4 linked regions of the Homo sapiens genome follow. The protein of the gene in region 3 interacts with the protein of the main gene of each other region in a pairwise test. Each region holds a gene or a part of one and is shown on either strand. Other genes may lie near its edges. The genes, in order: FAM9B, POU6F2, ZNF410 and POGZ.

Region 1 (7,033 bases), on a different chromosome or scaffold from region 3:
GCCTAATACATTGGGCATTATAGATGGAGACTGTATGTAAAAAATATTTGCATTGTGGTACAAATCTTTTATGATTGCTGAAAATTATTCTTAGCAATTGATGGTAGAGCTCTGATGTGAAATCATGTTTAGGAAAGCATTCCTTGCAGTATTACAGTTTTCTGAAACACAGCACTATGGGTACAAATGTCATAAAAAGCTCCAAGAAAACATTTCAAAAGTGTTTTTGAATGTATTTCTTTACCTAAACCTAAATTTTTATACTCATGGCCATTGCTTCTTTTATTAAAATACAGTTAATAGCATCAATCACTAGATTGCTTAAAAATGCTTTTCTTATTGTGCATTAAGTTATTTCTACCCTTTTGAGGGTTCTATTATATAAGATACTTTTTTGTGTGCTTTACGTAATGAATTGTGCAGTATTTCATGGAAGCATCTCCTTTGAATTGTAGGACATTTTATAAATGTAGAAATTAAAGTCTGTGCTTATAACTCTTTCTGCACATTTAAAAAATAGAGACTTTTAATTATTTGCTTTTTTTCATCATCTGTCAATTAAGTGATTTTCAGTTATACCAACTGGAATTGAAATGCGAATGTTAATACCTGAAAGGTTTTACAGAAAATAAGTGAGTAAATCTTGCTTTTTGAAATGATCTTTGCATTTTATATTTTAAATATCCTTCTGAAATTGCTGAACCATAAAGTCCCATATTGATGTCAGTATATGCAAAGAAACTACTTTTCAACATTAACTTTTAATCCATTTTCATTTACTATCTAACTGACATTAAAGAGGATCTTACTGCAAAAAGAAAAAGGATGAAAATGGATAAAACTTGCAGCAAAACAAAGAACAAAAGTAAACATGCTTTGAGAAAAAAGCAACTTAAAAGGTATGACTGTTGGCTTTTTTGCATAATGATATTTATATCATTTCTTTGTATTAGTTGGTGCAAATAATTTCAAAAACTATCCTGTACATATTGGCGTCTCTAGTGAACAACATATTTTACTTGATTGTTCTCTAAGTAGGTAAGTTTCTTTAGTTTTATAACCTCAGTTTAACAGAATTAAGAGATATTACCTAGAAGCCAATGAAGATGACCTCTTTTTGCCTTCCAGATAAAAATAGCCTTCTTGTAAAATTAATGTTTATCCATTTCTAGAAATATGGTAGCTGCATATAAGATAAATGTTCTCAATGTTTAGTCTGTAGATCCTTAACGATACTCAATTATGTAGAAAGGGATAACCTTATGTTGTAAATAAGTTATCTATTTTAGTTAAATTGTTTTCACTATTTCTTTTACAAAATCATTGGTGTGCCAAAGTGGAGAAATAGTTAAGTGAAGTTTTTCTTTTGGGAAATCTTATGGGATGAATGGCTATGATATTCTTGAACCTACTTATGAGAACCCATATGTTATTCAGTAAGAGGAAATGGAAAGTAAACTGCTCTTAGAGAAAATGTTTCTGGGAAAGTTATAGTGCAGTAAACCCTCCTTTGTCTTCAGCAGGTAAAGAATGTAAGATAGCTGCTCTAGTAGTCAGGAAGAAAAGAATCCTTTCAAAATGAGAGTAACTCATTTCACTTTTTTCCAAAAAGAAGATTTCAGCTGCTATTACTCCCTTGCTACTTTATAGTATAAATTATGTCAAGTCAGTTTGGGTTTGAATAGGATTAATTTTTCATCTCTCTATGACGTATGACCGTGTTACTTATTATGTGTTACAGGCAGAAACGTGATTATATACATTCTCTGAAGTTGCTAAATGTCCTTGAAGAATACATCACAGACGAGCAGAAAGAGGAAGAAGAAGAAGAGGGAGAAGAGGAAGAACTAATTGTTGGTATCATGCTTAGCTTTATGTATAACCTGTTATGTCAGTGTCTCAGGTAGTAATAGTTCATGCAGAAATCCAGCAAAGAAGGAAGAGCGCATGAGCCCAGAGAGGGGGGCCCGTTAGTGGACTAATGGACTAGGGGAATATAATTGCCACGCAGCATTAGGGGTCCAACTGAAGTCAGCATCATAACGATGAAGAAGTTAAAGTAAGCCCAGTTGGCATATTTGTGCAAGCACAGCTGTAGGGTTGGAATTTCCTGGGTCGGGGTGTAGCCGAGCAGATTGATAGAGGGAGAGTTGGGCAGGGAATAGATGCAGAGATGGGGATATGATGACTGGCTGTGGAATTTCAGCTGGGACTGAGTTATCTGAGCACACGGGAGTGGGCAATGGGCAGTAAAAAGTGCTCCATTCAGTGGGTGTCAGGTCCCAACAGACTCCTGAGCTGTAGTACTGAAGTGAGTGACCTACGATGGCAGGGAGGTAGTGGCTGTATGTTGGGAAGTTGGAGAAACAGCTGAGTGCAGTGGTCAAGGGCTGGGACTATGCATCCACACTGCTTGGGATTCTAGCTTGACCATTGCTAGCTCGGAAACCATGGAAAAATTATTTATCTCAGCTTGACCATTGCTAGCTCGGAAACCATGGGCAAATTATCTTATCTACGAAAGGAGACATGGTAAGAGTACCTACGTCAGAGTTGTTTGGAGGATCAAAGGGTTTCTGTGTAACAGGTTTATTTAAGTTTTTCAGGATGTGATCTGACCCATGGTTGCTCTTTATCATTGCTATTATTAATATTACGTAGGTGTTGAAGTCATTGGGAATGACAAAATCTAGGGGATGACTGTGTGAGTGAGTGCCACGTAGAGGAGAGGAGAACACTGTTGTTGGAGATTAGGTCAGGGTGCAGAAAGGCAATCATTATTGGGTGGTTCATCTATGTGCATATTGAAATGACCGAGATTTAATACATGCTTAAAATCTTAGAAAGAATTTTTCTTAGTTAATTTCTGTATAGATCTTACCTATCTGTGGTCAACAAATTATAGGAAGGTTCATCAAATACTCTTCATTGGAAATCAAGAATTAGGACATATGTGTTGAATGTGTAAAAGTAAGAAAATTCTTTACTTAATGACTGATAAAAAAGGTTAATACATCATTTTAGCATGTTATTGGTGAACACAATTGTTTAAAATTGGTCCTAAATGTTGTCTAAAAGAAAGTGTTCAGAGGTATTGATTTAAACAGTATTCCTTTAAAGCTAATGCAGAATTATGTTTTGTAAGTATTAAAATTTACCCAATTTTTATCACTATTTTGTTTTGGGATTCTAGAGAATATTTCAAGAACAACAGAAGAAGTGGCAACAATATAGAAGTGTTAGGAGAGAGAGGCTGAAAGAGATGAAGCTGCTACGTGACCAATTCGTAAAGGTCTGTTCTATTTGGTAACATAATACATTATAAAATACAACACGTGCATAATAGAAGACAGTCTGCTTGTTTCTGAATGTATGGAAAGACATTTGATTATACATTTCAAATTACTTAGCATTTTCACTTTGAATGTATTGTTCCAGATATAATATAATTGGTAAATGTATTTTTAGGATTCATGAATAGTTTGTGGGAGTTATTTAGAACAGGAAAAGGTAAATTGGAAATTTTACCTAGAAATACACATCTTATGTATAAAATTGACACTTTATTAACACATTAACCTATTTATGCCAGAGGTTGCAAATTTTTTTTGTGTGTGAAAAATCAGACCTTGGCCATGACCTTGAGCAGTAGGATATATATGATTCCCACAAGCTTAGCGTTCCAATAATGGAACACTAGGCATAAATGGGTTTTAATGAAGATTTTATTTTCAGTTTTCAGGACATCAATGACAAATCTATGGTGGAAGGCAAGAGGTCCATAAATCCTTTCTGGATGGCTTTTTTACTTGTGTTGTTTCAAGAGTTTTAGTTAAATAGGAAGTAGGCAAGCGTAACTACTGTGTGTCTTTTTTATTTCTTGCTGAAACACAGGAGTGTTTTATGGCATATTCACTTACAAAATTATTAGTAATGGTTCTACATGACAATTTGTAATCATAAGAGATGGTTCAGATGTATAACAGAATGGGAAAGCCAGCAGATTATTAACACGTTGTGAATTGCGAATTATCTGCTGTTGTACAGCACATTAGCAAATTATCATCAGACAATGACCTCTTCTTCATGTAGATGTAGATAATTTAGGAAGCAGTGGAATCTTTTTTGGGGAGATCTGGTATTCTTTTTAATAACCTTGGAAAAGACATGTTCATATGTCACTTCTCTACACTAACTGAGATGTGTTAAATAAACTGGGAAAAGAGTTTGAAAATAAAATTTTCAAGCAACTTGAGGATTATCTATACACAAACAGTTATTTAAATAGAAGTTACAAGTAGAGAACATGTTGCTATAATGTTCTCCAGATACCATTTATTAATTGGTATGAACATGAGACTAGTAGTTTTCCTGTCAGTATTAATGTTTCATGTTACCACTTAGGTTAGGAACTTTGCTATCATCTTGGACTCTTCTGAGTTCATTATCCTTCCCATGTAGTTATCACGAGGCAAGTTTTACCTCTGCAATGGTCCTTTAATTTCTTTCTTTAAATTCCCACTGCGGCTACCCTAGTCCAAGACCTCATTCTTCCTTACCTGTACTATTAAACTCTTTTCTGAGTTCTCTCTTCTCTTCTGAGCCATCCTTCATTGATTGGCAATATTATCTTTCTAAAACCCTTCCCTTCCTAAAATGCTTCCCAGCCCTTCCGTCTTCCCAGCCTGTCAGTGATGCCCCGTCTCAGTTCTTAGATATTCAGAGACTCTCCCCTTTACATGACCCCCTCTTAGGCTTGTTTTGCCGCCTTCTGTCTTTCCTCCCACTTCTCCAGGTTGACCGCCTTCCCTGAAGGAACTCACCGTTACTCCCATGCTTTGCTCATGCTCTTCCCTCACAATACTTTTAAAATCTTTTTTTGACTGATTGAAACCTTTCGCCAACTAAATCAACATCAGTCTCCATTTTTGGCTACATGCCCGAGTGAGTTGCCCTTCCATAGCAGTTACACAAGTTTTGTATTACTTGTTTTTTATTTGTGCATTTGCTCATGTCATAGAAATACGGAAGATTGTGTATTCATTTTTTACATCTTCCTCAGCATTAACCTACAACATTTTAGGGAGTAGGAACTGTTGAACTATTTGTTGAGTAAAGAGTATATATTTCAAACACAGTTACGTTTTCTCTAACTTGATGAGGTCATATCACCAACCATTTTATCCCTTCAATGGAAACCATGTTATGTAGGCTATTGCTGATAATACATGGGTCGCTACCTGCTGAAAAAAAATATAATATTTCATGATATAAGCCTGCCCGTCTTTTTCTGTCTTCGCTCCATCTTGACCTTAAGATGTTCTTCAACCCATTTTATTTAAGCAAAGTACATGACTGTTAGACCTGCTAAAATAATATGTCACTGAAATCTGGCATTAAAAAATTTAATTGGGTATTTGGAGCTCCATGTATTGATTATAGTTTTTTCTATTTGAAATGAATAACTGGCATCCTTTGAATATTAAAAGCTGTTTCCTTTTGACATTTAATTAACCCTGTTTAAAATGCGAGATATAAAGTGGTGGTTTGTCAGTGAACTAGACTTTTTCTTTTAGGCTCTTGAGGACTTTGAAGACCTTTGTGACAGAGTTTTTTCCGATGAAGACAGTGAACTTGATAACTAGACATGTTTTTAAATAAAATCATGTCAGAACTGTAAGTAGTGCATATTTAATATTAAAAACTCAGGATTGATGTAGCACTGGAATATTTTATTTGCAGAAATGTGTATTACAGTTACTTAAATTTTTTTTTGAAACAGCTTTTGGAAAAGTTGGCACTTACCCAGTTGTCTCTTCAACCTCTGTTATTCTGATGACTGAAGAAAGAACTTGAACCTATGTTATATGATACAAGCACAACTTGAGCTACAGTAAACTACATGACAGTGTTTTGATAATTGTTGTATAAATCGGTATAGCTCCTCTGTCACTCGTCTGTTAAATGCCAGACCTCGTTTCTATGATCTGTTGAATGAATCCTAGACACTTCTGTGAGAAAGCAGGGATTGCATAGTTATGTACACGGTCAATTAAATTTTAACATTAAAGATAATTTAGATTTCGATTTGGCCTCTGTGGATTTGTATCAGTTCCAAAAATGTAGAAAGCACAGGCATAGAAAAGTACATTTTTCTCTAATAAAAGAAGACAATATCTGCTGGGTGTGGTGGCTCACGCCTGTAATCCCAGCACTTTGGGAGGCCGAGGGGAGTGGATCACTTGAGGTCAGGAGTTTGAGACCAGCCTGGCCAACATGGTGAAACCCCATCTCTGCTAAAAATACCAAAATTACCCGGGCGTGGTGGCACGCACGTGTAGTTCCAGCTACTCAGGAAGCTGAGGCAGGAGGATCTCTTGAACCCGGGAGTTGGAGGTTGCAGTAAGCCAAGATTGTGCCACTGCACTCCAGCCTGGGCGACAGAGCAAGACTCTTTCTCAGAAAACAAGAAGAAGAAGACAAAAGCTATCTTATCTGTGCGTTCTTTTGTATTTACTCATTAGGATAAAGAGGCAATTCCAATGAAAGTAGGACTTCAAAAAATAGATATACTCTATGGCCATATCAAAATTATTAAAAGCACCTTACTGTCTGTGTTCTTAAAAAAAATTATACTGCTGTAAATGATTAAGGCAACTGAGCAAGATATATTAATATCAGTGCTGAGCCACTGGTTTGTGGGTATGTCATTTCCACAGACATCAAAATGCTATTTAGTTTGTTTTGGTCCATCATTCAATGATACCTCCCCTTAGAATTGAATGAAAGCATTTTGTTAACATTTATGTATGCTTACAATTATTTCACATCTGTGGCAAGGTAAATTTTGTAGAGTGCTTTGTTTATCCAGTTTAATATTCGTGGATTATGTGGAAGTTTATATGGACATCTAAAAACTTGAATGATGAATTCGCCTGCCTTTCCTTTTTTTAATGTGCAGTTTTCACATGTAACAACATATAACAAACATGTAAAAAGATTTTTTGCATGTAACATGTTAAAAAGATGTACA
Region 2 (5,226 bases), on a different chromosome or scaffold from region 3:
CGGTTCTTATGTGTACTCCTCTTTCAATCCTTGTGGTCCCACAGGGTCGTCAGAGTGAGGCCCCACCCTCCCCCCACAGACAGGAATGAGCCTGTGACCATGAATTTATGTGCATCACCCCGCAGCACCAGTGCTTAGTTTAGAGAAGGGCGCAATGATTCAAAGCCTTAGAGTCAATGGTTAGAGAATCCATCTGAGAAGGAAGCCAAGCAGGACAGGCTGATGACATCTTTGAAACCACTGAATCCAGCTGTGCTTCAGGTCCACAACGGAACTTCCCATTAAGTCAAACAACACAGTACCTTTATGTGTAGGCAAGTTTCAGTTGAATTCCTATAACTTGCAACCAAAAGAGTCCCAATGAATACAATATGTCATTTGAAAAGTTAAAATAATCATGATATTAACCAATCTGTCTTGAACCCCTTCCTTTCCTTAACATTTGGGGTTTTAATGTACAGTTTTTAAAATGCTGACAACTTAAATGACATATCTGAGTGTGAGACACACTTAGCCTAGAAGCTCATGTCAAACAATTATTTATTTTTTATGGTACAAATTAAAAGTGACAGATCTGAAGCTGTTAAGAAATACACAAAGTGCAGCTTTACTGACCATACAGATATTGCTCTAGATTAAGTACAGTTTTTTTTTTTTTTAAATATTAAGCAACCTGTGCAGATAAAATCAGCTTTGGTTTCAATGTCAGAGCAAGTAAGGAGCTTTTAAATATTCAGTTTGGCTTCTTGGTCACAAGTCTATCATGTCAACTTCTTGTCATGATGATTTTTCCAAAGCAACCCAGTCCTGTTTCCTGCCCTCCCTCCTGCTGCCTGCTCCGGGCACGGAGAAGCAGATCTCTTTGTGGTGCCTCATAAGTGACCCCGGTGACCAGTCTAGATCACAGCACATAGGACAAAAAAAAAAAAAAATCACTTTCTTAACAACAAATAAACAAATGTGCCTCACATAATTTCAAGTTGAAGACAAGCAAATCACATGACAAAAAGCTCATTACAAAATGTTATCCAAACAGATTTTACAGTCAAACATTGAAATGAAAATCAATTTCCTTTATCTCAATTTTTTTTTAAGCTTGGTCATTAACTGGGTACAAGTAGAGTGCTGAGGTAAAACATTGATGAACAGTTTGTATTTCTTTTTTTTTTCTTAAAATAGGAACAGTTTAGTATTGCGAGATTGTCAGCAACATTTAGCCATATCTATACAATGTGCATATACCTACAAATATTGAGCTTTGGTCCAGCGTAGAGAAACGAGCAAAGGCATTTTACGATTTCTTTTTGGTTATAGCTTGAGTTCTTTGATACACCTCTACTTGTTTTGTTTTGTTTTTTTCCTAGCTCCTTTTGCTTTTTTGTTCTCTCTTTTGTGTTGTATGTGTATGTGTGTGTGCATCTGTGTGATGACAACATAAAGAAGCCAAAACCTTGCAAATGCAATTAAAAGTTTCAATTGTTCAAAATATTTTCTTGGTTGAAAAAGAAAGAAAATCTATAAACAAGTGTAAAATGTAATATCCACTGTCATTTTTTCATGAAGTAATGAAAATGCAGATAACAATAATTAAAAATTATGTGAGAAAAATACTGAAGCTTGAAATACAATCACATATGCCCAAAGTGGCTTTTATTTTTTGTGGGTGGCAACCTTAACCTTCAGTTCATGGAAACATAAAAGACACTTAAACGCCATTGGCATATGAAGTTGTTTACAAGTAGACATGAGAAATGTCATCATAAAATTAAGCATTAGGTGTGGTCCCAAAGACTTATGAGTTACACAGTATAATTTATATTCCTAAGAATCGGTTCAGGCACCTTTTTATGCCTTGTAGCAAAAAATTTATCTGTAAAAAATTAATATAAGAAGCATTACAACACCTTATAAATAATTTATAAAACAATACAAAATTATAAAACTATAAAAAAATCACTGCACATGAATGGTGTTACGACTGTCGGATGAATATATTTCTTTTTTGTTCCACTCTGGAAGATTACTTTTATTTTATATTTTCCCTGTCCTAGTTAGACCCTCCCAATTATAGATCTCAGAACTGAGCAGGCCTTATGTAACCGCTGCCGGCATATATTTAAATATTTAGCATCCATCATATGTTATCTTGTTAACTTCTCTTCGCAGGGAGCTTTTCTTGATGGAATTTGGAGCAGGTCCTAGGAGAATCCAAAATCTGTTTTAATCAATAAAGTTTTGGGTTTCTGGGTTGTCCATGTTTGTGCAGTTTTTGAGGTGGCGAAAGGGGCTCTGTGATGTTGGCATTGAAGATCAAGTTAGCTGTGGTCCAGTTAGCATTGACTGGTAAAATGGAAACACCTTTACGAGTGACTTGTTCCACTTCCAGGATTCCTTTTAGAGTTTCCTTGCTGGTAGTCTCTTGATTGCTGCATGAATCATTGGAGGGGACAATTATACTGTAGCATTTACACAAACAGCAAAGGAGCCAACAGAAGAAACTCAAACTCCCCAGGGAGAGGGAGTGTATTAGGGGAAGGAGATGGCATTTCTAATCAGTTGGGCAACTTGAGATTGGGTTTCTCTTTTTTCTTTCACAACTTACTTCTAGATAATACATTAGCATGATTATAAATTATGCATAAATATGTACATTTCAACAGCAAGCAAATTGACAGCTCTCTTTTGCCTGCTCCTTTAATGGAACACCGTCTGCCTGTACCTGGGTGAAAACACCAGTGGCAGCTGCCAAGTGCTCACCTGCACAGCCGTCCTCACATCCCAACATGTCCTTGCTTATTAGGTTATTGTGGCCCACAGATCTTTTAAGTTATTTTTTTTAAAGGAAATAATCCTCTAGTTCTCATATTGCAGGCTATTCTGATTGTTAGATAAGCCCCTTCTATATTTTTTTCTTTTGGTGAAAGCTTCTTCAAACTTCCTTTCCCCTGAAGAACCTGGCCCCCAATTCCAGTTGTTTAAATTTGCCCGCCACCTTTCTGCTCCATTTATATATCCCGAAGAGTAATTATTCCCCCTGAAAAAAGTCTGCCATCGCTATTGGAATGAAAGAAGTAGCAGAAAAGATGAGATTAACAGGATACACGATGGCCTTTAATGATCCAGTTGCTATCACTTTCTTTTTAGCCTGTTTCTTTGTGTGTGTGTTTATGGGTGTGTGCATGTCATGTGTGTATTTGACTGAAATCTTGAGACATTTCTTTGGCTATCAGACTTCTGAGAGAAATTGCTTTGCACAGAAGCATAACATAGATGTAAGTATTGAACCAAATGTGCAGCTTATGTTTATATTACAAAATTAGTTTTGGTCAGCTCTCCATGTACGTGGCCAACAGACTGAGAAAAATCCCAAGCTCTGGTGTGGACAGTGAGCACAATTACAGCTTATGCCAGTGTTGACAGTTCATCGAGCAAAGCCCTAGTTATTTTGGAGTCTCTCCTGCATTTCACTAGGATCTGAGTGGAAAAGACACTGCTTCTCCCCACTTCTGTGGCCTTCCAGCAGACCCCAGGAGCCACGCGCGAGGGAGATGGAGAAATGGAGGAAAAGAGAGAAATGCGAGCTCCATTTTCTTTTCTCAAACCCACAAGTCATAGTGAGAAAAAAGCAACAAATGCTTTGGCACACGATCCAGGATGCCCTCCCGTCAAAAAGAAAGACAAAGAAAAAAGACCACCCTCCCTACCACCCCCACAAAAAAACCCAATAGTGAGCCTCACAGAATGGCTTCAACAATGGTACCCACCCCATGGGTGGAGACAGTAGATGGGAAAGATGGGAGAAATCAGGCTTCCTATTGTTCTGTTAGTACAAATGTAAAAATTCGTAACACAACTTTACGTGCGGAGAAGCGTAGACGAACGATCGCGTTGCAATGCCATGTTTCTGACTTTGGTTAATAGGTTTCATAGTGAATCAGCACTTAGTACCTGAAGGGGTGCAGTCCTTCCTCCAGGTGGCAGGCTTGTATTCGCTTTGAACAGATCAAAGTTTTTGTTCCTTCGTTGTTGGTTTTTGGTTTAGTTTTTTTTTTTCTTTTTCCTTAAAATGTGTTCACATTTTCATAATATACAGAAAAAAGTACGTGGTTATTTGGTTTGCTTTAAGTCCATTAAAAAACTGGCTTTGGGGGAGACAGGTGGGGGAAGGGAACTATCCTACCACACACACCTTCAGTGTGGTGTATTCCTTGTTTAAAAATTTTCTAAAAATTTTCTTCTTTCCTTTTTGGAAAACCAACGGACATGTAGAAACCATTCTGTCCACTTGGTAGTTTTCTTAGTCATTTACTTACAAGGGTGATGACGACTGGGGCTATTTTTAAATTAAATTAAATTTTGTTGTTGTTGTTGTTGTGGAGTCCCAAGGGTGGAGTTTAGTTTCTGTGAATTTTGCTTCTGATTATGGGTGGGCATCTCTTTAGGAGTTTTCTTCCAGAGAGTCTGTTAAGGGCTCCAAAGGGACTGCCGTGGCCGGCTCGTGCTGTTTTAAGCGTTTAATTGTGTTCTTCAGGGCTTGCCTCTTATTGCAGAACCAAACTCTAACTACTTCTCGGTCATAGTTCAGCTTCTCAGCAATTTCGGTCATTTCCTGCCCAGAAGGGTGTGTGTTCTTCTCAAAGTGGGCATTGAGGATCTCAAGGGCCTGGGGTGTGAAGGAGGTGCGCCGCTTGCGCTTTTTGGATGGTTCACTCCCGATAAACTCGGTCAGGTTCTGCATACCTGCTCGATGGCGGGCCTCAGCCTCAGCCATCCACCGCTCAAGCACCGGCTTGATCTTCTGGGCACTTTTAGGGGTGATGTCCAGCTTTTCAAACCTGGCAGGATACAAAAGGCCAGGGTTCAGTTTGGCTGTCAGACTGCTAGCTATAGTGTTCTCTTGGGCTTCCTGTGGTAGGAAAAAGTGGCTTCTCAGGATGGTGTGTCTGGGGGGGAAAATTGAGAAAGAACAGTCTTACACTGAGTCCTCTGCCAGGGTGGGCCTCCTGCCTGCCTGCCTGACTGCCTGGCAGGGCGAATTTACTGCAGGTTAATAGCCAGCTGCAAGGTAGCCAGCCCTGCCCAAGCCAGCGCCCACCCTCCCAGCGTGCTCCATGCCAGACCATGCAAACCACACAGGTGCACAGACAGGGGTGATGAGAAGCAGAGACAGCAGGATGCATGAGCTATCATAACATATCATAGGCATGCAAACAACTCACAGGCCTT
Region 3 (7,033 bases):
GTCTCTACTAAAAATACAAAAAAATTAGCTGGGCGTGGTGGCACGCACCTGTAGTAGCAGCTACTCAGGAGGCTGAGGCAGGAGAATCGCTTGAACCTGGGAGGCAGAGGTTGCAGTGAGCCGAGAACGCACCACTGCACTCCAGCCTGGGCAACGGAGCGAGACTCTGTCTCAAAAAAAAAAAGAAAAGAAAAGAGGAGAAAAGACGGAAGAGCACCATAAAAACTAATGTAATACTGAAAGGATCCAAGCTACAGAGGTTTTGACAAAAGTTTATGCATATGAAATGTGCTCGTGATGAAGTCATCCACTCCCATGACACAAGACCAGTGAAATATCCCAAGATTTTAAAACACTGACCACTTTGCATTCTGTTTCCTGAGTCAAAGCCAAACTACAGAGTTGAAAGTGCTTTAGCTCAACCTCAAACCCTTTTTGTTTAGATCAGAAGTCACCAACCCCCAGGCCATGGACCAGCACTGGTCCGTGCCCTGTTAGGAACCAGGCCACACAGCAGGAGGTGAGCAGCAGGTGAGCAAGCATTACCACCTGAGCTCCACCTCTCCTGTCAGATCAGCAGCAGCAACAGATTCTCATAGGAGCGCAAACCCTATTGTGAACTGTGTATTTGAGGGATCTAGGTTGCGCACTCCTTATCAGAATCTAATGCCTGATGACCTGAGGTGAAACGAAACCGGTCCCTGGTGCCAAAAAGGCTGGAGACCATTGATTTAGGTAATGGTTCTCACTTAGCAAGCAAGTGAACAAATCTGTATATGCCCATTTGGTTAAGCCTGGTATCTCCCAGACATATGACCATAGCAGAATGAACAATAATTATGTTTAATGATTTTGTTACTACCTTTTTTGCTGAGGGACTTTTTCCAGGATGTTATTTCTGGAGAAAAGAAAGGGATCTCTAGGAAATACTTGCTCCTGTCTGGTACAGAAATTTCACCCAATTTACACAGGCCAGGCCCTCTTCTCTGAATAACTTAACAGGTGAGGTCAACATGCATTTATTCAGTGCCTGCTGTGTGCTTTTATAAAATAAAAGCTGTATCATGTTATAGTGTGGCAGAGAATAGTGGGAACAGACATCAACAAGGAATGTATATAAAAGAACTTTAAAGCCGGGAGTCCCAGCTGTGACAGACCAATCTCCAATTCATTAAGACCCTAACCCTCAGGCTCCTTTCAAGCTGAACTCATGCTTAATTTAAAGGAAAATATTCGTGCCAAAGTTTCCAGGAAATGGAAACTGGAGACTTTTTCAGGTCCTCTAAATTCTCAATCATTCCCCACATGAATTGTCACAGAAACAAAGGGCAAGAGACCACTTTACCTCTTGTGGATTTACTGCAGTTAAGACAGAAACTTCATATGATTGCCTCCCTGACTGCATGGTCACCAGGTGATGTGTCACATCAGGCACTGAAGACAGGGAACGTGGGGATCCTTCAGCAAGCACCTCTGTGAAGCAACAGAAAAATGTTTCAATGAAAAGTGAATCCAGAGATACACCTATCTGGATCATTAAGCCTCTCATTAACAACTCTAAAACTCTATTCCTCTATTTCCCACATTCCTCTATTTCTTCCAAGTTAATCCTGTCTGATAAGCATTATCAGTGAATTTGGAAAGTAATATAAAAAGAGAATAGAAAGGCAAGAAATCTTAATACAGGATTTAGAATAATATGGTGTTAGCACTTTTAACTGAATTAAAACTATGTATGAAACAGGCAAAAGTCTTAGGCAAGCAGGTAAGGGAACCAAAGCCACCCTTAAAAGCAGTCGCCAATGATACTAATAGCACTTACTAACTGAATATGATATGAGTAACAAAAACATAGGGTCTCACAGTTACTAAATGTTCATCAGTGGGATCACCATGAAAATCTTCTGGAAATAGTTTATGGATATACCACTTAGCCCTCAAAAAACTAGAAGTTTCTTCTAGGGGTTTTCTAGATTATACAACTATTTTATGCTGTACCATATAATTTAATGTTGGCTTATATACTATCTTTTATGTACTCAATGTTCTTTCCCATATATATGTAAGCTTTCACTTCTCAACTGGATTTTAAGGTCCCTATCTTCTACTTTTGTCTTTCCCATGGTGCCAGGCACACAGTAGGCACTGAATAAATGCATGCTGACCTCACCTGTTAAGTTTTTCAGAGAAGAGGGCCTGGCCTGTGTAACTTGGGTGAAATTTCTATACCAGAGAGGAGCAAGTGTTTCCTAGAGAGCCCTTTCTTTTCTCCAGAAGATATGGCTTTTGAAGGTATGGAGAAATTGCTTTATATCTCCTCTGTAAAACCTGGTTATGTTCTGTTTAAATGTTCTAAAAGTTAAGTTCTTCCATAACTGCAATAGGAAAGATAGAAATAGTTGGGCTAGGATGCTAGGATTAGGAATAATTTTTTCTTAAGAATTTTTTCTTTTTATTCTTTTATTATATTATCTTCAATGAAAAAAAATTTTTTTTTAAACAGATTGACTAATCCACCCCAGAGAATAAGAACACAAATGCTACTCATACCACAGCTACTCATAAGAAATGAGATTTAAACATACATTGTGGAGACACCCCATTCCTTAGCCCCTAGTTGCAGCCCATTTTTCCCAAATAAAGGAGAGTTGGAAGTCTTACCATCATCAACTCCCAGGATAGAATTGGTATTTGGTAGGTTCAAGGACTCTCCACCAAGGCTGGGCTGGGAATTCATAGACACCAGGTTTTTACTGGGTACTGAAGCCTCTTCAAGCAAACTACTGCCCATTAGTGGCTCAGCTGCACAGAGAATAGGTTGTGAGAGACATACAGCAATCAAGGCTGTGCCTGGTCCTCATTTTCTTTCAACAGAAGCTGGCCTTCTCTTTCATTACTAGAAGTTAACCTATAGATGGGATGCCACCCCCTATTTCACCTACTTTCGAGAAACAAGAATAAACCTAGAAGGGAAAGAGTAAGCCTTAGAAGATAATGATCCTTGCTTGTGTTCAGCGTCTGAAGAATTAGCATATGAAACAGGATAGGTGGATCTTTAGAAAGGAATATTTGGAATAATTAAGGAAAGATATGGCGAAGGAATAAGAATTAAAAAGAGTTATCAAATTTCAGGCAGGGCAAAAAGGTAGTCATGACTGGTAAATAAAATATGCTTCCAGCCTGGCCAACATGGTGAAACCCCGTCTCTACAAAAATATAAAAATCAGCCAGGTGTGGTGGCACCTGCCTATAATCCCAGCTACTCAAGAGGCTGAGGCAGGAAAACTGCTTGAACCCAGGAGGCAGAGGTTGCAGTGAGTCGAGATGGCGCCACTGCACTCCAGCCTGGGTGACAAAGCAAGACTCCATCTAAAAAAATTAAAAAGCTTAAACTCTTCCCATGTGGAAATCTTTTATCACTGTGTTACTCAAATGCTTGTTCATGGATCAGCACTAGTTACCATCAAACTCACTAGGGAAACTTTTAAAACTACAGATTCTAGGATCTTGCAAATTATCTCATTTATCAGATTGCTTTGTTTTATTGGTGGGCGGACAAGCAACAAAAAGTATATAAATTTTAAAAGGTTGCAGATGATTCTACTGTATAGCTATGTTTGGAAACCATCAGCCCATCAAATGAGACCAGGTCTATCTACCCAAAACAGAATCAGAAAATTTCCAGATAAGCAGGCAGGACAGTGATTTGGCTCTTGGAACCCTAGAAGTAGTACAGCGTTCCACTATGCCCACCCTCCTCACCAGTTTGCTCCTGCTCTTGACTCCCAGCTGCTCCCAGCTGCAGGTGATGCTTTCTCATATGCACATTCCTGCTTCCACTCTGAGAGAAGGTCTTCCCACAGACTTGGCACTGATGAGGCTTCTCTCCTGAAACAGGGACCAGGTTAAACAAGGAAGCCAAAAGGACAGGAAGAGAATGAACTCAAGACCTAGATGGAGAAACCCAGAGAATGTTAAACTGAACATAAGCAGCTGCTCCTTTTCCCATTCCGCACCTTCCCAGCCTCTCAAACTTCAGTATATGGGGGAAGGCAGGAAGAGTACACCAGGAGGGCTTTAGCACACTCCCTGCTCCCAGCTGCTGGTCCTTTCCAGACCTTCTGTAATGCTGCCTTCACAAAACCTCTTTGGTATAGGACCATGGCAACCACAAAAAATATGCCTTCTTTTTCAGTTAGTCTTCCATGGACCTCTAGGACATGTGCTTTCCTCAAGGATTTCAATCCTGTGTTCCTAATATCCCCTTGTCATATTCCCTGCCACCCTCTTTAGGGTCATCAACATTCACACTGGTGGCTCTTACAACATAATAATCTAAATTGTCCTCTATGTCTTCAAGTCCCAAACTCTCCGTCTCCATTCTACCTACCCAGAAAACCATACTTAGAGCAGGGGTCAAAAACTCATGTCTATAGGAGACTGATAGGTAGCAAAAGTAAGTAAAATGGCCAAGTGGGGGCTGCAGTAACCTAGAGAGTACCTAGAAAAGGGGCAGCTGTTATTCAGCTCTAGCCAACTGTTGCCATGGGTAGATTAAGGCAGATTCTCTGATTTTTTTTTAAGACACTGGAAATAAGGATTTTTAAGTAGAATCTCCCAATTTCTAAATGCTAGGAACAAATTCACAATTGACAAACACATGGTACAGCAATCATCATTGCTGATTGTATTTTGCTGGGAATGCAAAATACAAAAACCTCTTTGGGGGAATCTGACCAGATCTAGAAAAATTGTAGATGCACTTGCCCTTTGACCTAGGAATCCCACTTCTAGGAATATGTCCCAAAATTACAGCAGCAAAATGTGAAATACTCTGTGCACAAGGTTATTCATCACGGCAACATTATTTTAAATGGCTAAATACTGGAAACAACGTAAATATTCATCACAGAGACTGACTAAAAAGCTATAGATACTGCAGTAGTCCTGCATAGCAAAAAAAAAAAAAAAAAAAAAAAAACCTATACAATAGAAACAGGGTGGAATATTACAAAGCTTAGAACTAAAAACTGAATCACCATTTGAACCAGCAATCCCATTACTGGCTATCTACCCAAAGGAAAATAAACTGCTCTACCAAAAAGACACTTGCCCTCACATGTTCAATGCAGCACTATTCACAACAGCAAAGACATGGAATCAACCCAGGTGCCCATCAATGGTAAATACGATACAGAAAATGTGGCACATACACACCATGAAATACTATGCAGCCATAAAAAAGAACAAAATCATGTCCTCTGCAGCAACATGGATGCAGCTGGAGGCCATTATCTTAAGCAAATTAACACAGAAACAGAAAATCAAACACCATGTTCTCACTTATAAGCGGGAGCTAAACACTGGGTACTTATGGACACAAAGATGGGAACAATAAACACTGGGGATTCCAAAAGCGGCTACGGGGCAAGGGCTGAAAAACTACCTATCAGGTACTATGTTCACTGCTTGGTCAACAGGGTCATTAGTAGCCCAAACTTCAGCATCTTGGAATATACCCTTGTAACAAACCTGCACATGTACCCCCTGAATCTAAAATAAATTTATTTTAGCCAGGTGCAGTGGTTCACACATGTAATCCCAGCACTTTGGGAGGCCGAGGCGGGCAGATTACTTGAGGTCAGGAGATCAAGACCAGCCCGGCCAACATAGTGAAACCGCATCTCTACAAAAATTAGCTAGGCGTGGTGGCGGGCGCATATAATCCCAGCTGCTTGGGAGGTTGAGGCAGGAGAATTGCTTGAACCCAGGAGGTGGAAGTTGCAGTGAGCCAAGATCATGCCACTGCACTCTAGCCTGAGCCAGAGTGAGACTCTGTCAAAAAAAAAAAAAAAAAAAAAAAAAAAAAAGGCCGGGCACGGTGGCTTACTCCTGTAATCCAGGCACTTTGGGAGGCTGAGGCGGGAGGATCACGAGGTCAGGAGATCAAGACCATCCTGGCTAACACGGTGAAACCCCATCTCTACTAAAAATACAAAAAGGTAGCCGGGCGTGGTGGCGGGCGCCTGTAGTCCCAGCTACTCGGTACGCTGAGGCAGAAGAATGGCGTGAACCGAGGAGGCAGAGCTTGCAGTGAGCCGACATCACGCCACTGCACTCCAGCCTGGGAGACAGCAAGACTCCGTTTAGGGGAAAAAAAAAAAAAAAAAAAAAAAAAAAAGGCCATATGAAATGTCCAGAACAGGCAAATCCAGACACAGAAAGCAGATTAATGGTTGCCAGGGGCTGGAGAAAGAGAGACATGGTCAATGATACTAATAATGGGACTTCTTTTTCTTTTTTTAATCATCTCCTGGATATGGGGATCCTTTTTGGGATGATGAAATGTTGTGGAGTCGGACAGTAGAGAAAACTGTAAAACTATGAATATATAGTTGGCCATCCACATCCATTGATTCAACCAAGCAGATAAAAAATATTCAGAAAAAATAAAAATAAAAAATAACAGGCCAGGCGCAGTGGCTCATGCCTGTAATCCTAGTACTTTGGGAGGCCAAGGCAGGTAGATCACTTGAGGTCAGGAGTTCCAAGACCTGGCCAACATGGTGAAACCCTGTCTCTACTAAAAATATAAAAATTAGCCAGGCACATGCCTGTAATCTCAGCTACTTGGGAGGCTGAGGCAGGAGCATCACTTGAACCCAGGAGGTGGAAGTTTCATTGAGCCAAGATCGTGGACCACTGCACTCCAGCCTGGGCAACAGAGCGAGACTCCATCTAAAAAAATAAATAAATAAAAAATAACAATATAGCAATAAAAAATACAAATAACCAATATAGCATAACTATTCACATAGCATTTACGTTGTATTAGGTACTATCAGTAATCTAGAGATGATTTAAAGCATATGGGAGGATATGTGTAGGTTATATGCAAATACCATGCCATTTTATGTAAGAGACTTGAGTATTTGTGGATTTTGGTATCTGTGGGGTCCTGGAACCTATACACCACAGATAACAAGGGATAATTATATTACTACTAAAAATCACTTAGTTGCACCCTTTTCTT
Region 4 (7,033 bases), on a different chromosome or scaffold from region 3:
TGCCAAGACTGAAAATCACTGATCAAACTGAATACATGTTCTGAAAACGAGGGCAATTAAAAAAAAATCATCCCACATTCTATACATAAAGAACTATCATTTCTTTTTAAAAATATTTGTCCTCTCAGGCCAGGCACAGTGGCTCACGCCTGTAATCCCAGCACTTTGGGAGGCCGAGGTGGGCGGATCACGAGGTCAGGAGATCAAGACCATCCTGGCTAACACGGTGAAACCCCGTCTCTATTAAAAATACAAAAAATTAGCCAGGCGTGGTGGCGGCCGCCTGTAATCCCAGCTACTCGGGAGGCTGGGGCAGGAGAATGGCATGAACCTGGGAGATGCAGCTTGCAGACTGCACCACTGCACTCCAGCCTGGGAGACAGTGCGAGACTCCGTCTCAAAAACTCTGCAAGAGAGCAGAACAAGGTTCTTATGAATTATTCAAATGGTTATATCTTGTATGTTAAAAATTTTTTTATAAAATCCATATATATCTAGTCTGTTTCATCCTATAATCACCTACCTGTGAAACTTGATTTTTTTTTTTTTTTTTTTTTTTTTTGAGACGGAGTCTTGCTCTGTCACCCAGGCTGCAGCGCAGAGGCACGATCTCGGCTCACTGCAACCTCCGCCTACCGGGTACAAGTAATTCTCCTGTTTCAGTCTCCCAAGTAGCTGGGACTACAGGTGCCCACCACCACGGCTGGCTAGTTTTTGTATTTTTAGTAGAGATGGGTTTTCACCATATTGGCCAGGCTGGTCTTGAACTCCTGACCTCAGGTGATCCACCTGCCTTGGCCTCCCCAAAGTGCTGGGATTACAAGTATGAGCCACAGCACCCAGCCAGGAACTTGATTTTATCTTCATATTCATCTGACAACTTTTAGGTCACAGGGTCTTTGTCGCCTGGGCTGTAGTGCAGTGGCGCGATCTCAACTCACTGCAGCCTCGACCTCTTGGGCTCAAGCAATCCTCCCGTCTCAGCCTCCCAAGTAGCTGGGACTACAGGCATGTGCTACCACGCCTGGTTAATTTTTGTATTTTCTATAAAGCTAGAGTTTTGCCATATTGCCCAGGCTGGTCTTGAACTTCAGGACTCAAGTGATCTGCTTGCCTTGGTCTCCCAAAGTGCTGGGTTTTACAGGCATGAGCAGTCGTGCCCAGCCTCCCCAGTTCTAAATTTTTTCTTGTTGTGGCCCCTTTACAATTCCTCTACAGGTTACTTTTGCTACATATAAACTCTTCTAGCTTCTTCAACTTTCAAATCATTTTTGCAGAGGGCAATGCCTCAAAGTGACAAAATGGAAACCTATTTCTATGTTCTTCCTCAAAAATCTTATTTATGGTTGAACTTAAAAGTTACAGTAGCTCTGTATCTCAAAAGCCAAAGGTTATGATTGTAATATGTTTAAATAGAAAAACCTTAGCCAGGACCGGTGCAGTGGCTCACGCCTGTAATCCCAGCACTTTGGGAGGCCGAGGTGGGTGGATCACTTGAGGTCAGGAGTTCAAAACCAGCCTGGCCATGACCATGACCAGAGATGTGGTGAAACCCCGTCTCTACTAAAAAAAAAAAATACAAAAATTAGCCAGGTGTGGTGGCACACGCCTGTAATCCCAGCTATTCAGGAGGCTGAGACAGGAGACTGCCTCAAAGGGAAAGAAAAAAGAAAAACATTAACCAATAAACTACTGACTAATAATTCACATTAGTTATCAGCTGTTTTGTCTATGGCATTTTTTTGCAAACAAATACACAAGAAAAGCCAAAAACAATGTATGAAGTATTACTGACAATAATATTTAACCTGAATCAAATCAATTATTTATTTATTTTATTTTTTTTTAAATTTTTTGAGATGGAGTTTCACTCTTGTTGCCCAGGCTGGAGCCCAATGGCGCGATCTCAGCTCACTGCAACCTTCACCTCCTGGGTGCAAGCGATTCTCTTGCTTCAGCCTCTCAAGGAGCTGTAATTACAGGCATGCGTTACCATGCCTGGCTCATTTTGTACTTTTAGTAGAGATGGGGTTTCATCATGTTGGTCAGGCTGGTCTTCAACTCCTGACCTCAGGTGATCCACCCGCCTCAGTCTCCCAAAGTGCTGGGATTACAGGTGTGAGGCACCGCGCCTGGCCCAAATCCATTATTTAAATGTAACTTTGCGTTTACAAGAAATACAGCAATAAAAGAACAAATTAAGTATCACCACAAAGAAATAATGAGATAAATCCAGAAGGTGGGACATTCTAGAAGGAAATAATCAAATGCAGAATATGGAACATTCTATAAAACTAATAGAAGTCTCTTTAAAAATGTCAATGTTCGGCTGGACGCGGTGGCTCACGCCTGTAATCCCAGCACTTTGGGAGGCCAAGGCAGGTGGATCACCTCAGATCAGGAGTTCGAGACCAGCCTGACCAATATGATGAAACCCAGTCTCTACTAAAAATACAAAAATTAGCCGGGCGTGGTGGTGGGCACCTGTAATCCCAGCTACTCAGGAGGCTGAGACAGGAGAATTGCTTGAACCCGGGAGGTGGAGGTTGCAGTGAGCCGAGATGGTGCAATTGCACTCCAGCCTGGGCAACAAGAGCAAGACTCCGTCTCAAAAAAAAAAAAAAAAAAAAAAAAAGTCAATGTTGGCCGGGCATGGTGGCAGGCCAAGGTGGTAGGATTGCTTAAGGTCAGGAGTTCAAGACCAATCTGGGAAACAGAACCGATCCCTCTAAAAAATTTTTAAACAGAAAGGATAATCATATTATATTCATGTAGGAGAATGTATTTATTCCTAGGAAATGCACAAAATATTTAATAGAAATATCTTGAAAGTGACTTTCAAGGGGTTAAGCAAATACATAGATATTTGGCTTTTTTTTTTGAGACAGGGTGTCATTCTATCCCCCAGGCTGGAGTGCAGTGGCACAATCACGGCTTATTGCAGCCTCAACCTCCTGGGCTCAGGTGATCCTCCTGCCTCAGCCTCCCAAGTAGTTGTCACTACAGGTGGGCTATTTTGATATTTTCTTATAGATACTAGTATGCCAACTTTCAAAAAATATTTGGCATGGGCCAAAACATTAAAAATCATCCTGTCACCAGGCGCAGTGGCTCACGCCTGTAATCCCAGCACTTTGGGAGGCCAATGCAGGCGGATCACAAGGACAGGAGTTCGAGACCAGCCTGGCCAACACAGTGAAACCCCGTCTCTACTAAAAATACAAAAATTAGCCATGCGTGGTGGCTGGTGCCTGCAGTCCCAGCTACTCGGAAGGCTGAGGCAGGATAATCGCTTGAATTCGGGAGGCAGAGGTTGCAGTGAGCCAAGATTGTGCCACTGCACTCTAGTCTAGGCAACAGAGCGAGACTCTGTCTTAAAAAAAAAAAGTCACTCTGTCTAGGTGGTGGATAGTTTAAGTGTTCCTTGTAGAATTCTTTCACCCTTTTCTTTTTTCTTCTTTTTGTGATGGAGTCTCGCTCAGTTGCCCAGGCTGGAGTGATCTTGGCTCACTGCAACCTCCACCTCCCAGGTTCAAGTGATTTTCCTGCCTCAGCCTCCTGAGTAGCTGGGATTACATGCATGCGCCACAACGCCCAGCTAATTTTTGTATTTTTAGTAGAGACAGGTTTCACCATGTTGGTCAGGCTGGTCTTGAACTCCTGACCTTGTGATCCGCCCATCTTGGCCTCCCAAAGTGCTTCGGTTACAGGTGTGAGCCACTGCGCCCAGCCTCTTTCTCCCTTTTCGCATGCGTGAAATTTTCTTAATAAAAACTGAGGTGGGGTAGGAGGGAGTGGAACTACCTACTCATATCTTAGCTGTGATATTCTGTACTGCTACATTCCACCTATCTCTTTGGTATTTACTAAATAACTGGTAGCCTTGTTGGTTGAATTTCTTGATTTATTCCCAGGACCAATTTTCATGTAGCTTGTATATATACATTTCTCTTTTTTTATTTTTATGCATCCATTTTCACTTAATATACATTTCTTAAGACATAGCAAAATAGTTAAATAAGAAATAACAAATTAAGGTGGATTATGTAGGCTACCAAGGAGGTACATTACTTTCTTCCATTAATCCATTATTTGACATCTTGGTAACCTAGGTGGTTTCTCTATTTTGTAGTAATTGTAACATGATTTTTTTGTGCACTCAATAGGTTTTACTTAACACTGCAGGCTCACACAGAACTATTAGCAATACTCAGTCTCTTGTCTCATCCTTCAATCCATAATATGGGAGTACCAGATAAATACTCTCCTGGAGGGAAGGGGACTATTTCTTAAATGCTGGCGAATATGGTAGTCTATACTAAGGCCCTATATGATCAGCTAGTCAATAAAAGTCTATATAATTGTAAAGGCAAGATAAAAACAGACCTTTTAAAACAATATACTATTTAAAAGCAGCAAAAAGAATCCTGCAGATACACCTGTATACTTTTAAGGTATTTAATGGGCAGCAAATGTTGCCTATCTTCATCTCAAAGAAAATGAGAAAAAGATCTGTTTTCCACAACTATCCTGACATACTTGGTTCTTGAAAGCTCTGAATTCCTTTGTCTTGTTCTTTCATAGCTGTAAAGTCCAGAAATGAAGAATGAAGAATTCAGAAATGAAGAATTTGGTATCTAACGTTTTCAACTTACTGCCAGTACATACCTGCCCAAAAATCAACATAAAAAGAACATTTGGAACAGGAAAAATATTTTACAGAAAACAAACATTTTAAGAATACCACTTTCTTGTTCCAGGGTGAAAAATAAACAATGATAATCCTCAACATAACTGGTAATTATGTTTTCAAGTTACCTCAATTTTTGGCTCTAAAAAGGACTAATACCAGAAAACCTATAGGGCTGAATACTTAATCTGTGTATAAAACTATAGTTAAACATGTAATAAGCTTTTATTTATCCAGTCTTTTGCACAGCCCATTTTGTCCCTCACAACATCTGTTATAGTACCTCATATGTAAGAATCATAAGGGTTTTAAGTAGTCTTAATAACCTAAAATTTCCAAACTCAAAATACTTTCCTCTTGTCTGGTAGCCAATCCTGTATCAAGAAACACCCAAATATTTAGTTCTGTGCTCTTTACTAAAACAAGTAAGCAACAAGTTCTCTTCTTTAAAGGGGTTCAATATTCAGGAGTCCCTTTCCCAAGAAAAATATCTATACTATGATGGAAAACTTTTCTTCAATGACAGCTGTGTGTTGCCTAAATTCCATTTCTATGCTTTCAATTTCTTTTAACTCTGCTAACACCTAGCAATAGGTTAGTGTCTCTTTTCTGCTCTCCTCCCCTTGGTTACATATAAAAATACGTTTTTCAGTTGGGCGTGGTGGCTCACGCCTGTAATCCCAGCACTTTGGGAGGCCAAGGCGGGTCGATCAAGAGGTCAGGAGTTTGAGACCAGCCTGATCAATATGGTGAAACCCCATCTCTAGAAAAATACAAAAATTACCCAGGTGTGGTGGCGCGTGCCTGTAATCCCAGCTACTGAGGAAGCTGAAGGAGGAGAATCGCTTGAACCCAGGAGGCGGAGGGTGCAGTGAGCCGAGATTGCGCCATTACGCTCCAGCCTGGGCAATAGAGCGAGACTCCATCTCAAAAAAAAAAAAAAGACAAGTTTTTGTGAATATGGCTTAATATCACAAACAAGAATACCAAAGAATCTATCAAAATGTTACCATATTGATATTATGGCAAAGGCATTAACCAGCTCTAGGATTTGTAATCAACCAGCTCTAAAGTTTTTATTTTACAGATAAGGTCAAAACAGTGGTTTAGAGAGACGAAGTAACTTCCTCAAGGTTACAGTTAGTAAATATCCCAGTTAGGATTCAAAGCAAGCTTTTTTTGCTTTAGAATTCTTCCCCAGGTCACTGCCTCTTCCATCAACTTCAACTATTTATAAATTCTCCCAAGTTCCCCAAGGGAGTTAGATTTGAATGATGTAAAGAGCAGAAACATAGGACTGACTGAATGATTCTCATTTTTTTGACTCTTAAAATTATTGAAGACGCCAAAGATCTTTTGTTTATGTGAATTTTATCTTTCCACATTTACCACAAATTTTTAAAATGTAGTATTTATCAATGTATTTTAAGACAAGCCCATTATAAGTTAACATAAATAACATTTCAACAAAAAATACTTTCCCTCCAAAAAGTGAGAAAAGTAACGTTGTTTTGCATTTTGCAAATCTCTTTTATGTCTAACTTGATAAAAGATGGTTGGATTCTCACAGTTACTTCTGCATTCAGTCTGTTGCTATATGTAGCTTTGGTTAAGTATATAATGAAAATCTAGTCGGAAAAGGGAGAAGTATTTTAATAACCTTTTCAGATAACTGTGTTTGGTAAATACTAAAACTCAACAAACGGTAGTTTCTTTCTTTTTTTTTTTTTTTTTTTTTTTTAATAAATAGAGACAGGGTCTCACTATGCTGACCAGGCTCAACTCCAACTCCTGGGCTCACACAATCCTTCCACCTTGGCCTCCCAAAGTGCTGGGATTACAGGAGTGAGCCACCACGCTAGGCCAAATAGTAGTTTCTTAAAGGACAGTTAACATTTTGGAATCTGAAACCACATCAATCCACTTTTTTACTGTTAAAATCCATTGCTATGTCTGGAATTTTCAAAGGATCTTTTGCCTTTGCTTGATTTTGCAACATCATGCATTGGTCATTTGCAAAGCCTAGATTTACTGAGTTATGCCCATCTTCCAAATAACATATTTCATTAAACAACATTTTAAAATATTGCAGTCCTTAACCACTGATATCATAAGGAAAGTCTTTTAAGTACTAGGAAGCTGTCAAACTCCAGCTGTCAACTTTTTAAAAATTCTAATTTTCACCCAAATTTTATCACTGGTAATAAATACTGTCAGTTGTTTTCCTAAAAGTGACAAGCTCACTTCATTTTCAAGAAATATCTGCCAAATACTAAGTGTGAAAAACCATAGTCTGCTAGTCGTTCTTTCAAGTAAAAATGCTACTCCATGAAATAAGCCATT

Evidence for each region.
Region 1: the proteins of ZNF410 (region 3) and FAM9B interact in binary tests that used the Homo sapiens proteins (3 or more experiments, as listed by UniProt).
Region 2: the proteins of ZNF410 (region 3) and POU6F2 interact in binary tests that used the Homo sapiens proteins (3 or more experiments, as listed by UniProt).
Region 4: the proteins of ZNF410 (region 3) and POGZ interact in binary tests that used the Homo sapiens proteins (3 or more experiments, as listed by UniProt).

What each region holds. Positions count from the first base shown.
Region 1 is NC_000023.11:9,024,127-9,031,159, reverse strand, and holds the end of FAM9B (protein FAM9B), read left to right. Parts: intron 1-563; coding exon of another isoform or gene 564-592; exon of another isoform or gene 593-799; coding exon 800-899; intron 900-1,741; coding exon 1,742-1,853; intron 1,854-3,193; coding exon 3,194-3,292; intron 3,293-5,576; coding exon 5,577-5,645; 3' UTR 5,646-5,676; intron 5,677-5,782; 3' UTR 5,783-6,928; downstream 6,929-7,033. UniProt on the Homo sapiens protein: May play a role in meiosis.
Region 2 is NC_000007.14:39,463,899-39,469,124, reverse strand, and holds the end of POU6F2 (POU domain, class 6, transcription factor 2), read right to left. Parts: intron 4,944-5,226; coding exon 4,439-4,943; 3' UTR 524-4,438; downstream 1-523. UniProt on the Homo sapiens protein: Probable transcription factor likely to be involved in early steps in the differentiation of amacrine and ganglion cells. Recognizes and binds to the DNA sequence 5'-ATGCAAAT-3'. Isoform 1 does not bind DNA.
Region 3 is NC_000014.9:73,917,835-73,924,867, reverse strand, and holds part of ZNF410 (zinc finger protein 410), read right to left. Parts: intron 3,889-7,033; coding exon 3,763-3,888; intron 2,803-3,762; coding exon 2,662-2,802; intron 2,170-2,661; exon of another isoform or gene 2,132-2,169; intron 1,474-2,131; coding exon 1,346-1,473; intron 167-1,345; coding exon of another isoform or gene 65-166; exon of another isoform or gene 49-64; intron 1-48. UniProt on the Homo sapiens protein: Transcription factor that binds to the sequence motif 5'-CATCCCATAATA-3', and is specifically required to silence expression of fetal hemoglobin in adult erythroid cells.
Region 4 is NC_000001.11:151,449,488-151,456,520, forward strand, and holds part of POGZ (pogo transposable element with ZNF domain), read right to left. Parts: intron 5,416-7,033; exon of another isoform or gene 4,540-5,415; intron 1,462-4,539; exon of another isoform or gene 1,423-1,461; intron 1-1,422. UniProt on the Homo sapiens protein: Plays a role in mitotic cell cycle progression and is involved in kinetochore assembly and mitotic sister chromatid cohesion.